Regions from separate parts of the Homo sapiens genome. Here all the other regions are reported to be linked to region 4. The links are microRNA targets in miRTarBase. Many come from high-throughput screens and were not tested one by one. Region 4 holds a microRNA gene; each other region holds the end of a gene's coding sequence.
What was found. The annotated mature microRNA hsa-miR-513b-5p reads UUCACAAGGAGGUGUCAUUUAU and lies in region 4 at 1,085-1,106, shown strand. An mRNA with a match to its seed (bases 2 to 7 or 8) in the 3' UTR can be bound and repressed. Matches are read on the target gene's strand: a 7mer-m8 pairs with bases 2 to 8, a 7mer-A1 pairs with bases 2 to 7 and ends in A, and an 8mer does both.

Region 1 (3,149 bases), not on the chromosome of region 4:
TGGGCAGATCACCTGAGGTCAGGAGTTCAAGACCAGCCTGGCCAACATGGTGAAACCCCATCTCTACCAAAAATAAAAAAATTAGCTGGGTGTGGTGGTGCATGCCTGTAATCCCAACTACTCGGGAGGCTGAGGCAGGAGAATCAACTGAACCTGGGAGATGAAGGTTGCAGTGAGCTAAGGTCGTGCCACTGCACTCCAGCCTGGGTGACAGAGCGAGACTCTGTCTCAAAAAAAAAAAATCATTTTAATGGCAAATGTTAAGTATACAGCAATTAAAAATAACATTTATATGAAAAAATACCTGTATTTGTATATACTTGGTAATACTGATTCAAAATGTAACATGCTTAAATTATCAAAATTACAAAGTTGATTTGAAATCTGTAATTCTCTCGGTAAACAAAAAATAACATTTCTTAGTGTTATGGGTTGAATTGGGTCTCCTAAAATTTTTACGTTGAAATCTTAATTCGCGGTGCCTCAGTATGCGAAAAGAGAGCTGTTGCCAATGTAATTAGTTAAGGTAAAATCATACTGAAGTAGAGTGGGGCCTAACCCAATGAGTGGTGTGTATGTATAAAAATATTGTCACATGGAGAGACACACACACAGGGAGAATGCCATGTGAAAATTAGAGTTATGCTGCCACAAGCTAAGGAACTACCAGAAGCTAGGTGAGTTCTGAAACAGATCCTTCCCTAGCATCTTCAGAAAAAGCATGGTCCTGCCAATGCCTTGTTTCTGGATTTCTGGGTCCAGAACTGAGAAACAAAAAGTTTGTTTTCCTATGTCACCCAGTTTTTGTACTTTGTTATGGCAGCCCTGGGAAATTAATATAGTCTCTAAACAACTAATTTGAAAGCACAGTAAATAGGATTTTTTTTTCTTTTCTTGCTTGTGTGATGGAGTCTTTCCCCGTCTCCCAGGCTGGAGTGCAGTGGTGTGATCTTGGCTCACTGCAACCTCCGCCTCCTAGGTTCAAGCACTTCTCCTGTCTCAGCCTCCCAAGTAGCTGGGGTTACAGGTACTCACCACCATGCCTGGCTAATTTTTGTGTTTTTAGTAGAGACAGGGTTTCACCATGTTAACCAGGCTGGTCTCAAACTCCTGACCTCAAGCCTCCCAAAGTGCAGGGATTACAGGCATGAGCTACTGTGCCCAGCTAAACAGGATATTTCTAAGAAATATCTACAGAAGGTTTTCCTTGAAACAAAATCCACATTATTTTTAATGATACATAATCAAACCTAATAATTTAACCTATATCAAGAAACTGCATTTAGTTCTGAGTAACAGAAATCTCCCTAAATCTAATATATGAGGAAGGTATTTGTTCTCACATAGGACTCGGCAGGCACACTTAAAAATGCAATAGGGTACAAAGTCCCATGTGTTGTTTTTCTTCTTTGACTGCAACACTGTGGCTTTCGTGGTGGAATCAGGATCACAGAGCCACTGGAAGTATTAAGATAACAAGGTGTTCACTATATAAATTAGACCCCATGCAAATATGTTAAGATCTACAGAACGGGAGAATCAGAAGCTCAGAGACTGCCAAACAAGACAGTCTGAATCAGTGGTCAAGAGGTCATGCAGGGTTTTGAGAAAAATCCAGACTCTAGGTGACTGACCACACAGGAATATCCCTAATATCAAGTTAATGGAGATGTCTGAGGAAGACTACACCTCTGACACAGTGGAAATCAAGCACTTAAGTGTTTCTTTTGATGGTACTCTTGATTGGCAGGAATAAGAATCTGGAAAATAAGCTGAAGGTTGATGTTCACAAAGCCCCTATGCATCTGTCCATCTCCATTTAATGTGACCCCAAAAGCTCAGCGATGACTTACTTCTTCTTCATTCTAAATTTCATTCAAGTTATTGCTATTGGTAAATTTGGACATGGAACCATAAAGGAAATGCATTCCAGCAAATGAAGTTCCTAACACTACCCACACTGACAACAATGCAGAAGAACTATCTGCAACTCTGGATTTCTCCGTCACATCACAAGTCAAAGCCTACTGTCCAATTCACAATCACAAGCAAAGACAAACAGCAATGGGCAAACATTAAAAATTACAATTCATTTGAGGCTATACTCCTTAAACAACTTTGCATAATTACAAAATTCTGCCAACTACTTCTTAAAAAATGGAATAAGGCTCCTCTGGCCAAACAATAAAAATACTCCCAGTAAAAAAGGTGGAAAATATAATAGATACGTAATATCCAATACCTGTCACACTAAGTCAGTTACAATTTAAGAAATTAAATAAAACTTGAACCTACTTGCATATTAAAAATACACTTCAAATCATCCATGAGTCCAAAACACTCTAAGATGAAAGTTTTATTTACTGAATCGTAAGAAACTACCTGTTCAAATTCATGTAGGATAGCTGAGAGTATTTGGAGAATTATTTTTCAACTAAATGTTTATTTGCAAATGAACTACAGACACACTCCTTGAGTGTCCACTTTCAGGATAAGGAACTCATAAAGGCAACACCATATTTACAACTTTGATCAGATCTCTCTCCTGGTGTGACTTTTCTGAAGCACTGCACATGAATTCATTTGCAGGAGGATGTCCTACATTACACTTATACTGTTTTTCTGTAGTGTGTATTCTCACATGTCGCCTTAAGGATGAGGAACAATTGAATGCTTTCCCACAATGCTTACATTGATAAGGTTTCTCTCCAGTGTGCAGTCTCATATGTATTGGTAAAGATGATGGCCATTTGAAGACCTTCCCACATTCCTTACATTCATAGGGCTTCTCTACAGTGTGCGTTCTCACATGTTGTTGCAAAAGTTCAGGCCAACTGAAAGCTTTCCCACACTGCTTGCATTTATAGAGTTTCTCTGCGGTATGTCTTCTCATATGTTTTTGTAAGGATATGTGGCAATAGAAAGCTTTCCCACATAGCTTGCATTCATAGGATTTGTCTTCAGGGTGCATTCTCACATGTTCTCGAAAGCAAGCAGACAAGCTGAAGGCTTTCCCACACTGCTTACATTCATAGGGTTTCTCTCTAGTATGTGTTCTCATATGTTTTCGTAAAGATATGGGCCAATTGAAAGTTTTCCCACATTGCTTGCACTCATAGGGTTTCTCTCCAGTGTGCACCCTCATGTGT
Region 2 (3,149 bases), not on the chromosome of region 4:
AGTATGTAATTGGAGAGAGAAGAGGTTTCACATAAAATGTCTGCTGAACTGGATCAGGGCAAATTTTATTCTGTAAATTTAAAAAGAAGAAAATACTGTGGGGGTGTTTTAGTTTTGGAGGATTTTAGTTGCCTATGGGACAAAGAGTGCCATGTGGCTGCTTAGACTATCAAAGGTGCTCTAAGTCCCATTAATGAAAGCAGAGCATCCAGGACAAACAAGGTGAGCATCCCAGGGGCATGGGGCTGTGTCTGAGTCACCACAGGGCCCCTTGCTCCTAGCACAGGGCCTGACATGCAGCAGGTACCCACTGGGAACTCACACTTCCCATGCTGTGCTCTGGCCGGAACCGTTTCATATTTGAGGGTCTCTGTTCCCTGAAAAAAACCAGCGTTTGTTTGCCTGGCGAGTAACAAATAACTCTCCACAAGAACATGAGTTTTGATGAAAAGGAGTTTTTTTTTTTTTTTACTTGTCACAAGCAAGGAGAGCGCTGGGAATACTCTCCAAAGCGGTGTCTCTGAAGGAAAGTGACAGGAGGGTTTTATGGGGTGATGGAGAGGGGAGAGAGTGCATTGGTGCATGTAGGGGAGGGGTCCCAGTGGCGCAGCCGCAGTGAGTCGTCCTGCCAGCACACAGGTCACATGTTACGGTCATGAAGCTATAGCTCCCCCTGGGGTAGTGACTTCAGGATGGTAATGAGGAAAGTTCACTTGGGTTCATCTAGAAGTTGCCGGGGTCTGTCAGGAGCTGGTTCCAGGTGACTAGGTCACCACATTCCACACGGGGCTTGGGAAGAAACAGGCAGCAAGGCAGGAAGCTGTAAAACAAGCTGATTGCTCAAGTTGGTTAAATGTCTGCTTTCCCAGGAGACCCTCCCTGTCTGCTTACATCTCCTCTGTGCTATCTCTGTGCTGGATTCAAAAGGGGAAGAGGTGTTTGAGCTAGAAGCTTGAAGGAGGTGTCCATGTGAGCAGAGAGGAGGGATGGGGTGAAGAGTGCTCCCACAGAGGGCTGCAGCAGAGTCCATCCAAGATTCTCTGCCCAGGCTCACTTCTGCTCTCTTTCCCTTTGAATTAAAATACAGGTTTCTAAAAAATAGGGGCAGGGGGTCATCACACTTTCTAAGAGTCTTCTGCCGGGCGTGGTGGCTCACGCCTGTAATCCCAGCACTTTGGGAGGCCGAGGCGGGTGGATCATGAAGTCAGGAGATCGAGACCATCCTGGCTAACACGGTGAAACCCCGTCTCTACTAAAAATACAAAAAAAAATTAGCCAGGCATGGTGGCGGGTGCCTGTAGTCCCAGCTACTTGGGAGGCTGAGGCAGGAGGATGGCGTGAACCCGGGAGGCGGAGCTTGCAGTGAGCCCAGGTCACACCACTGCACTCCAGCCCGGGCGACAGAGCGAGACTTCATCTCAAAAAAAAAAAAAAAAAAGTCTTCATTTCAGCTTTGTTGTTTGTAAAAATATGCTCCCTTACCTGGATGACAAGAAACAAATGTGCTGACATGTTTAAGGAAAGATTTGGAGTATTTTAAATCAGGCTATGAAGGGACATGAGTTTAAGGAACTGGTAGGTCCATAGTAGGAGTGCTCATAGCCACCAATAATCCCCTTAGGAAGGAACTAATTATGTTTGGAGAGGACGTGTGTGCCTGATCAAATAATTAAAACTAAATTGCTCTCCTTGGAAATGCAAATTAACGAGTGTTAAAGCAACTCGGTTGGTCACATAGATAATAAATAGATGTGTTTTCTCAAGTCTTTAGGTGGCACTGATTGATTTCCAATTCTGGCTACAACAGGGCCTGAGCGGCTTTTGAAACAAAGATGAGGGGACTGTAGGCCCAGTGGGGACAGCTGTTGAAAGCTTTAAGCCATTACACCCCACCCCCACCGGCTGCTTTTTGCTACTGAGAATAGGAGACCTTGAGGAACCAGACTTGACCTACTGCTGCCCCAAACCCCAGCCCTGCAGGCGTATGAGGGAACGGTGGCACTGTCAACCCTGCTCCTCCAGACAATACCTTCCCTACCACCCAGTGCTGTCAGGTCAAAGAAAATAAGGCACTGGCTGAGCACCAGGAGCCAGATGGACCTTTTGGTGGGGATATGGAGGTGTAGGGGGAAGCAGGGGTACGAGGCCTTGGGGGGCTGACTGGAGTACTGTTACATGAGTTTTTACAAAGTTTTTGCTCAGCAATTACTTAATAAAAAGTCTTATCAAACAATAAACAAAAAGCCCCAAACTCAGGTTACAAATGTTTTATCATTTTGTCAAAGAACCTGTATTAGTTAAGCACCTTTACACAGAACTTGCTCTTGAGTGGGCCTTTGTAGGTGGGCTGGGAGAAGAAAATTGAATTTCTGCCTCGAAGGAAGTTACATTCTTGTTGTGGGGACAGATTTTAGGTAAACAAAGAGCATGTTACCAATTCCTTTTTCCTTGCTGGCATCAGGTCCTTTCCTACACCTCTCATCTGGAGGAAAATGATTACCTAGAGCAGGTGTGACAAGTGACATAAGAGGGAGAGAGAAGCCCCACCAGGGCATTGCTGTAGGATCTCATTTAGCCCTCCAGAGGCTGTGTGAGGGAGCCTCTTATCTCCTTGCAGCCCAGGGACCTGAACCTTCAAGAGATGTAGGGTAATGATGCTATCTTGTTCCAAGGGGGGATGCGAGAGGTGGATGAGGTAAGACACAAAGGAACACCTAACAGTGCGTAGAACCAATAAGCACTCAGTGAATGCTCCCTCTGATTCCTAGGTAACTTGCCCAAGGCCGCAGACATAGTTGAGGACAGAACCAGGATTCATTCACACCCTGGTTAGCCCAATTAAAAAGCCCCCACCTTTCCTTCCTGGCTGCAGGTGCCTCTTGGGATTCAGTTGCCTTCATCTTCCTCCTCGTCTTCCCTCCTATTTGTGGTCACACCTCCAGCCTCTTTCAAGTCCACCCAGAGAGCTTTTTCTTTCCGTGTGTTGGAACGCAGTGTTGACAACTTCCTGGCCTTCCAGTATAAGCAGAGGAGGGAGATGAGCAGAAGGAGGAGCAGGACGAAGGGACAGATGAACAGGAAATAGAGTAAAGGGGCCGAGGAGCAGATCCTGGAAGGAAGCGTGGGCTCTGCAACGAAGGGAGAAACAA
Region 3 (3,133 bases), not on the chromosome of region 4:
CAGCTTCCAAGTTGGGCCTCCAGGAACTCCAGGAACCTGCTGATCGGCATTTGCTCTCCTCTCCTCAGGGCTTCAGACAAGCTGTTTCTCCTAGACCAGTGTGAGAAGTATCGGCGCTGCAAGCAATGCCAGAGGCGCACCTCCAACGTGGGCGAGAGCAACCTGTGGCCCCTGAACAAGTTCCTGCCTGGCTCCCGGTTGCTTGTGTAAAACTCAAAGTTTGGCTCTTCGTTTCCCGGGGAAAGTTTTTATCTTTTACATGTTTGGGGGTGATTGTGAAACTGCGTATTTTTACCTCAGAGAAAAAAATCATTGTTTAGGTTTGGTGCTTTCATTAGATTGCTTGTTAAGCCCTTATTGAATTCACTCCTGCTTTCCTCCCACCCCCAATTATTTCCTATACTAGTTTCTGATGGCAGTGAAGGTGTCTGAATGGTCCTGAGGGCTAGAACCTGCTGCACAGGGGCTGGGAATGGGATCCAGCTTCATTATGGCTGCTGGGGTGCTGCTGACCCAGCCCTGCTGCTGCTCCATGACTTTGTGTACAAAACTTTTTTCATCTGTAATGAATAGTGGCAATAATAAATATTTTTTAAGCGCCTGACTGTGCATGACAATTCATAATGGTACATTTTACCCCTCCCTCTTCCCCCAGTCCTAGACTTTTCCAGAGGGGTATATGTGTGAATATCACAGAGATGGGTTAGACTATTTACCCCCAGGAGGCCAGAACAATGCTCCCTGAGTTTTCTCATTGATGACATACCTGGGACTTTAGTGGGCCTTCCCAAGATATCATTCCCTTGTCCAGCTATTTCTACACCCTTGGAGTAACTGTGCACTGTGAGGTGAGTCTCCCACTACTTCACTTGCATTCATTCTTAAGCTGTAGGTGCTGTTCAAGAGGACTTAACTCCCTGTCAGAGGACTGACTTTCAGTTAAGGTATGGCTGTTCTCAACTAAAAACTTTCTTCGTTTATCTTCATACTTTTGTAATGCCCAACCTTGTTTTTACTAACCCTGTTTTTAGACTCTCCCTTTTCCTTTAATCACCTAGCCTTGTTTCCACGTGAATTGACTCTCCCTTAGCTAAGAGAGCCAGACAGACTCTATCTTGGCTCTTTCACTGGCAGCCCCTTCCTGAAGGACTTAACTTGTGCAAGCTGCACATCCAAGAATGCAATTAACTGATAAGATACTGTGGCGAGCAATATCCACAATTCCCAGGAATTCGTCTGACTGATAACGCCCAAAGCCCTGAGTCTATCACCTTGTAATAGTCTTAAAGCCCCTGCACCTGGAACTGTTTACTTTCCTGTAACCATTTATCCTTTTAGCTTTTTGCCTACTTTATTTCTGTAAAATTGTTTTAACTAGACCCCCTTCCCCTTTCTAAACCAAAGTATAAAAGAAAATCTAGCCCCTTCTTCGGGGCTGAGAGAACTTTGAGCGTTAGCCGTCTCTTGGCCACTGGCTAAATAAACCGACTCTTAATTTGTCTCAAAGTGTGGCGTTTTCTCTAACTTGCTCAGGTACAACACTTTCTTCTCCTCTCCCTGCCCTGTCTGACCAATTGAAGTAAAACAGAGTGAAGTCTAGATTTCTGAAATACAAAAGCTAAGAAGGATGTCTTTTAGACTATTTGCTTTCTGCCCGCCACATCTCTCCCTTGGGAAATAAGGGAAAGTTTTTGTGGGAAGATGTTTGTGAACATTTAAACTTTCATTTTGCCCTACAAATACAAAATAGGAATGTGTTGAGCCCTGAATAATTGTGGAGAAAATATTCACTCAAGCTGATATTGGGCAAATTTTGTTGCTAATGTTATCTTTTTCTATGAAAACAAGCATACCTGCTGATGATCACAATTTTTTGGAACGTCTTCCCTAATCTTTCTCCGTTTCTGCCTTTCATTTCCTCAAAAAATCATTCTATGGAGGGCCAATCATCATTAACCAATATTTAAAACAATAGGCTTTCCCCAAGACTGCCTGACCTGCCTGAATCTATATCTGCTGCACCCTTGAAGTAATTTGTTTCTAATATATAATAAATTACTATAATAGTGTTGTACTAATATATTTTAAAAATATAGAATGCTGGCCGGGTGCAGTGGCACATGCCTGTAATCCCAGCACTTTGGGAGGCCGAGGCGGGTGGATCAAATCTTTTGACGAGGTCAAAAGATTGAGACCATCCTGGCCAACATGGTGAAACCCTGTCTCTACTAAAAATACAAAAATTAGCTGGGTGTGGTGGCACGCGCCTGTAGTCCCAGCTACTCAGGAGGCTGAGGCAGGAGAATTGCTTGAACCTGAGAGGTGGACATTGCAGTGAACCGAGATCGTGCCACTGTACTGCAGCCTGGTGACAGAGCGAGACTCTGTCTCAAAAAAAAAAAAGAATTCCTTGTTAAAGAAAAAAAAGTTAATTTTGGTATGTTCAGGTGAGCAGATTTAACTTCATAGACCTTTTCACTGGAGGAATTGAACTTACAATTTACTGTCATAGGTAGCAGTCAGTACTACAGTCAGACCCTTTAAAAACTATTTTTAAAAATTATATATTGACAAATTATTTGTAATATTTATGTTGTATATATTTATGGGGTATAAAGTGATATTGTGATTTTTGAATACAATGTGGAATAATTAAATCAAGTGAATTAAAATGTCCATCACCTTATTTAACTTTTTGTGATAAGAATATTTAAAATTTATTCTTTTAGTGATATTGACATGTACAGTGCTCATTATATTCACCACACTGTGCAACAGATCTCAAAAATATATCAAAGTTGGCTTGGCGTGGTGGCTCATGCCTGTAATCCCAGCACTTTCGGAGGCCGAGGCAGGCAGATCACCTGAGGTGAGGAGTTCGAGACGAGCCTAGCCAACATGGTGAAACTCTGTCTCTACTAAAAATACAAAAAATTAGCTGGGCGTTGTGGCATGCACCTGTAGTCCCAGCTACTCAAGAAGCTGAGGCAGGAAAATCACTTGAATCCAGGAGGCAGAGGTTGCAGTGAGCTGAGATCATGTCACCACACTCCAACCTGAGTGACAGAGCCAGACTCTGTCTCAAAAAAAAAAAAATCAAACTTTTTTTTCCTGAGGCTTTGTACAATTCAAC
Region 4 (3,149 bases):
GTAGAGAAAATATAACTGAATGCTAAAAATACTAAATCCACCATCAGGCAGAAAAGAGGAAAATTTGGAATAAGAAAAGGATGAAACATAGAAAACAATCAGAAAGCCAGTAGATTTAAATGCATGTATGTAAATAATTGTATTAATATAAATGATATAAATGCTTCTATTAAGACAGAGATTGTCAATTTATATAAAAATAAGAAACAACTATATACTTTCTAAAACAAAGCCATTTTAAATATGAAGACCTACGTGAAAGTTGGGTAAAAGTAAAAGGATGGAAAATATATTAATGCAAAGAATCTTAGAACTAAAAATCTTACAGCTATTACTATTTAATAACACACACACACACACACACACACACACAGAGCGAGTGAGCAGGCACTCAAATAAATGAACTATAAAGAACCATGGAGCTAAGAGAAATAAAATAGCATTTCCTGTCTTCCAGCCCATTATCTGTCTTGTGTGTATCTTGTATTAATTTCTATGGGTTCTTCCTGCTCCATAGCCTGAAGAAGAAATGAAATTTCTACTCTCTCCAACCTGTTACCCTCTGACTCTTCTCCACTTCTTTGCATCCAGGTTGTTGTATTCTGTGGTTTTTCTGATGGACTTTAGGTGTGTGCAGCACAGCTGGAGTTTAGGACAACAGAAAGCTTTGGTGAGTGGTTGGTCCTTTCTACTTAACCAGTAATTTTATGTTTTTTTTTTTTTTTTTTTTTCTATTACATTTTGTTTTTGTTTTGAGACAGGGTCTCACTCTGTAACCCAGGCTTGAGTATAGTGGCCTGATCTCCTCTCACTGAAACCTGACTCCCAGGGTCAAGGTGTACTCCTGCCTCAGCTCCTGGGTGGCTGGGATTATAACAAAATAAAACAAAAATCTGCATGTTAAAATCTCACTCAGGGCAGGATGAAAGGGGAGCACTGGGGGCTAGGATTTGCATAATTCCTTGGCATAAATCTTGGTGGCCATGCTAATGTATACACCTATATAGGGACTTGAATAAAAATGGCATGAATAGGGAGCATTTGGTCTGGGATGCCACATTCAGCCATTCAGTGTACAGTGCCTTTCACAAGGAGGTGTCATTTATGTGAACTAAAATATAAATGTCACCTTTTTGAGAGGAGTAATGTACAGCATGCACTGCATATGTGGTGTCCCTAGGGATGGGGCTGTAGCTGCGAGCATGGTGATGCCTGTTTTGGATCCTGTGCACCCACTCCTCAGTGCTGGGCTACTTCAAGGAACTTTTTGTGCCTTCTAGACGACTAGACATAGGAACTGTGGACTCCTGAGAAAACGCATGCACTCAAGTTCTTTAAGAATTTAACTATTTTTGCCAAATGAGGCTTGGCTCAAATAAGAAATACATTGTATAGAGGCCACAGCCATTCTTCGTCAGCTGGAAGGTTGTACTCCAGATTCCTAAATTCTCTAAACTTTTCTCTCTTGTCAACTAGTCATCATTTGCAAGGCTTCTCCTTTAGAGCTCCCAAAAGACTCTCCTGCCTCTCAGGTCCCTTCATTGTTGATCCACAGTGTCCATTTGTCTCTCAAAGACTAAAATGTTTTTCATTGACTTTTAAATTACCTTTCAAAGCTATATGTCACCAGTTTACAATGGGTTAAGCATAGTCCATCCAAGAATATTTCATTCTTTTTCATTATCTTTTTCCCCATTTTTTAAGAATACACTTGAAGAATGAAAGGGTGTGACAGAACTGATACTCAGGAGATGTCTCCCAGGCTTCTCTCTCCATTTTCTTCTGGTGACACTTCTTAACTTTTAACCCAATGGAGAGAGAGAGAGAGGGAAATAAATACACACACACACACACACACACACAGAGAGAGAGAGAGAAAAGGAGGGAGAGGGAGAGAGAGAGACAAGCGCCAGACTGTGTGATGCCTTCTGCAGCATGAAACCAGTATGCATGTTTGGGAAGTAGGTTATAAATAAGCTACTTATATTGTGGAAATGTGTAAAAAATGTTTTAGAAATAGTAAGTGATTAATACAATTTTGATTCCAACTGAAATAGAGGCTACAGCATATACACTGAAAGGGAAAAACTGTTAAAAAATTACTATATGGTTACAGGGAGGATTTTAGTTTATGTTTTTTTTTTTAGATTCAGAATGGATGAATATGTGTAAGACCATTAGTAACTGAAAGTAAAAAAAAAAATCTGTTGATGTATCTTTTCCATAATGAAACAATTGCACTAATAGAATACAAAGAATCTTTGTATGTGTGTGTGGGTCGGGGGGAACATTCTGAACAGTAAAAAAATTCTGTCAGTTTGAAATACTGTATGTACGTAGAATTTTCCAAAGTGATAACTCCTCTTAGTATATAGTTTCTAAAACTGTATTATAGTGAAAGCATGTTACTTATATAACTTTAAGTGATATCCTAAAATGAAAGTAAGAAAATTTAGTTGTTATCGTATCTCTTTTATGATTTACTCAAAAAGAATAGTATATTCACTGGTATTTATGTTTTCTTTCAGAGAAATTCTGTTTTGTATTATTCATCCATGTTTCTACCAATTTATTAAGGTTTAACTGACATAAAAGTTGTATATATTTAAGGTATACACCATGATGTTTTGATATATGTGTACATTAGGAAATGATTAAATCAAGCTAATTGAAAAATAAAATAATATGAACATAAAATATTTAGGTGAAATTCTAAGAAAAAAATTACAAGATCTCTGTGGTAGGCAGAATAACAGCCCCCTCAAAACAATGTTTACAGAGTAACCCCTGAACTTGTAAACAACACATTTTATTGCAGAAGAAAATTTGTGCATGTGATTAAATTAAATATTTTGAGATTGGGATTATCCTAGATTATCTAGGTGAGCCCAACATTATCACAAGGGTCCTTATAAGTAGGAGAAAGGCGGTTAGAATAAGAGAAACATTGGAAAAGGCTATAGTATTGACTAGAGGTGGAGGTAAAGTCCATGAGCCAAAGAACGGAGAAAGCAAGTAGCATCTTCTTCTAAAGACAATCAAGTAGATTCTCCTCTAGAGCCAACAGAAGGAACAAAGCCCTGCCAATGCCTTCATTTTAGCCAAGAGAAACCTAATTTAGATTTCTGACCTTTAGACCCTAATATAAT

Region 1: miRTarBase lists ZNF555 as a target of hsa-miR-513b-5p. Seed matches in the 3' UTR shown: 7mer-m8 at 2,043-2,049, 7mer-A1 at 2,036-2,042, 7mer-m8 at 2,011-2,017 and 7mer-A1 at 1,786-1,792.
Region 2: miRTarBase lists CD101 as a target of hsa-miR-513b-5p. Seed matches in the 3' UTR shown: 7mer-m8 at 476-482.
Region 3: miRTarBase lists CCDC81 as a target of hsa-miR-513b-5p. Seed matches in the 3' UTR shown: 7mer-A1 at 274-280.

The regions. Positions count from the first base shown.
Region 1 is chr19:2,853,304-2,856,452 of GRCh38, reverse strand. ZNF555 (zinc finger protein 555) reads right to left here. Exons shown (of 4, transcript NM_152791.5): 4 at 1-3,149. The coding sequence ends at 2,501. Among named protein-coding and RNA genes, the nearest start is that of ZNF556, 12 kb to the left of the region's middle.
Region 2 is chr1:117,033,839-117,036,987 of GRCh38, reverse strand. CD101 (CD101 molecule) reads right to left here. Exons shown (of 10, transcript NM_001256106.3): 9 at 2,854-3,128; 10 at 436-820. The coding sequence ends at 2,887. All of the region lies in intron 2 of CD101-AS1 (CD101 antisense RNA 1), which reads left to right. Among named protein-coding and RNA genes, the nearest start is that of CD101-AS1, 24 kb to the left of the region's middle.
Region 3 is chr11:86,422,506-86,425,638 of GRCh38, forward strand. CCDC81 (coiled-coil domain containing 81) reads left to right here. Exons shown (of 15, transcript NM_001156474.2): 15 at 69-601. The coding sequence ends at 210. Among named protein-coding and RNA genes, the nearest start is that of CCDC81, 49 kb to the left of the region's middle.
Region 4 is chrX:147,197,050-147,200,198 of GRCh38, reverse strand. It overlaps MIR513B (microRNA 513b), which reads left to right and starts at 1,072; the gene lies at 1,072-1,155. All of the region lies in intron 1 of LOC105373347 (periphilin-1), which reads right to left.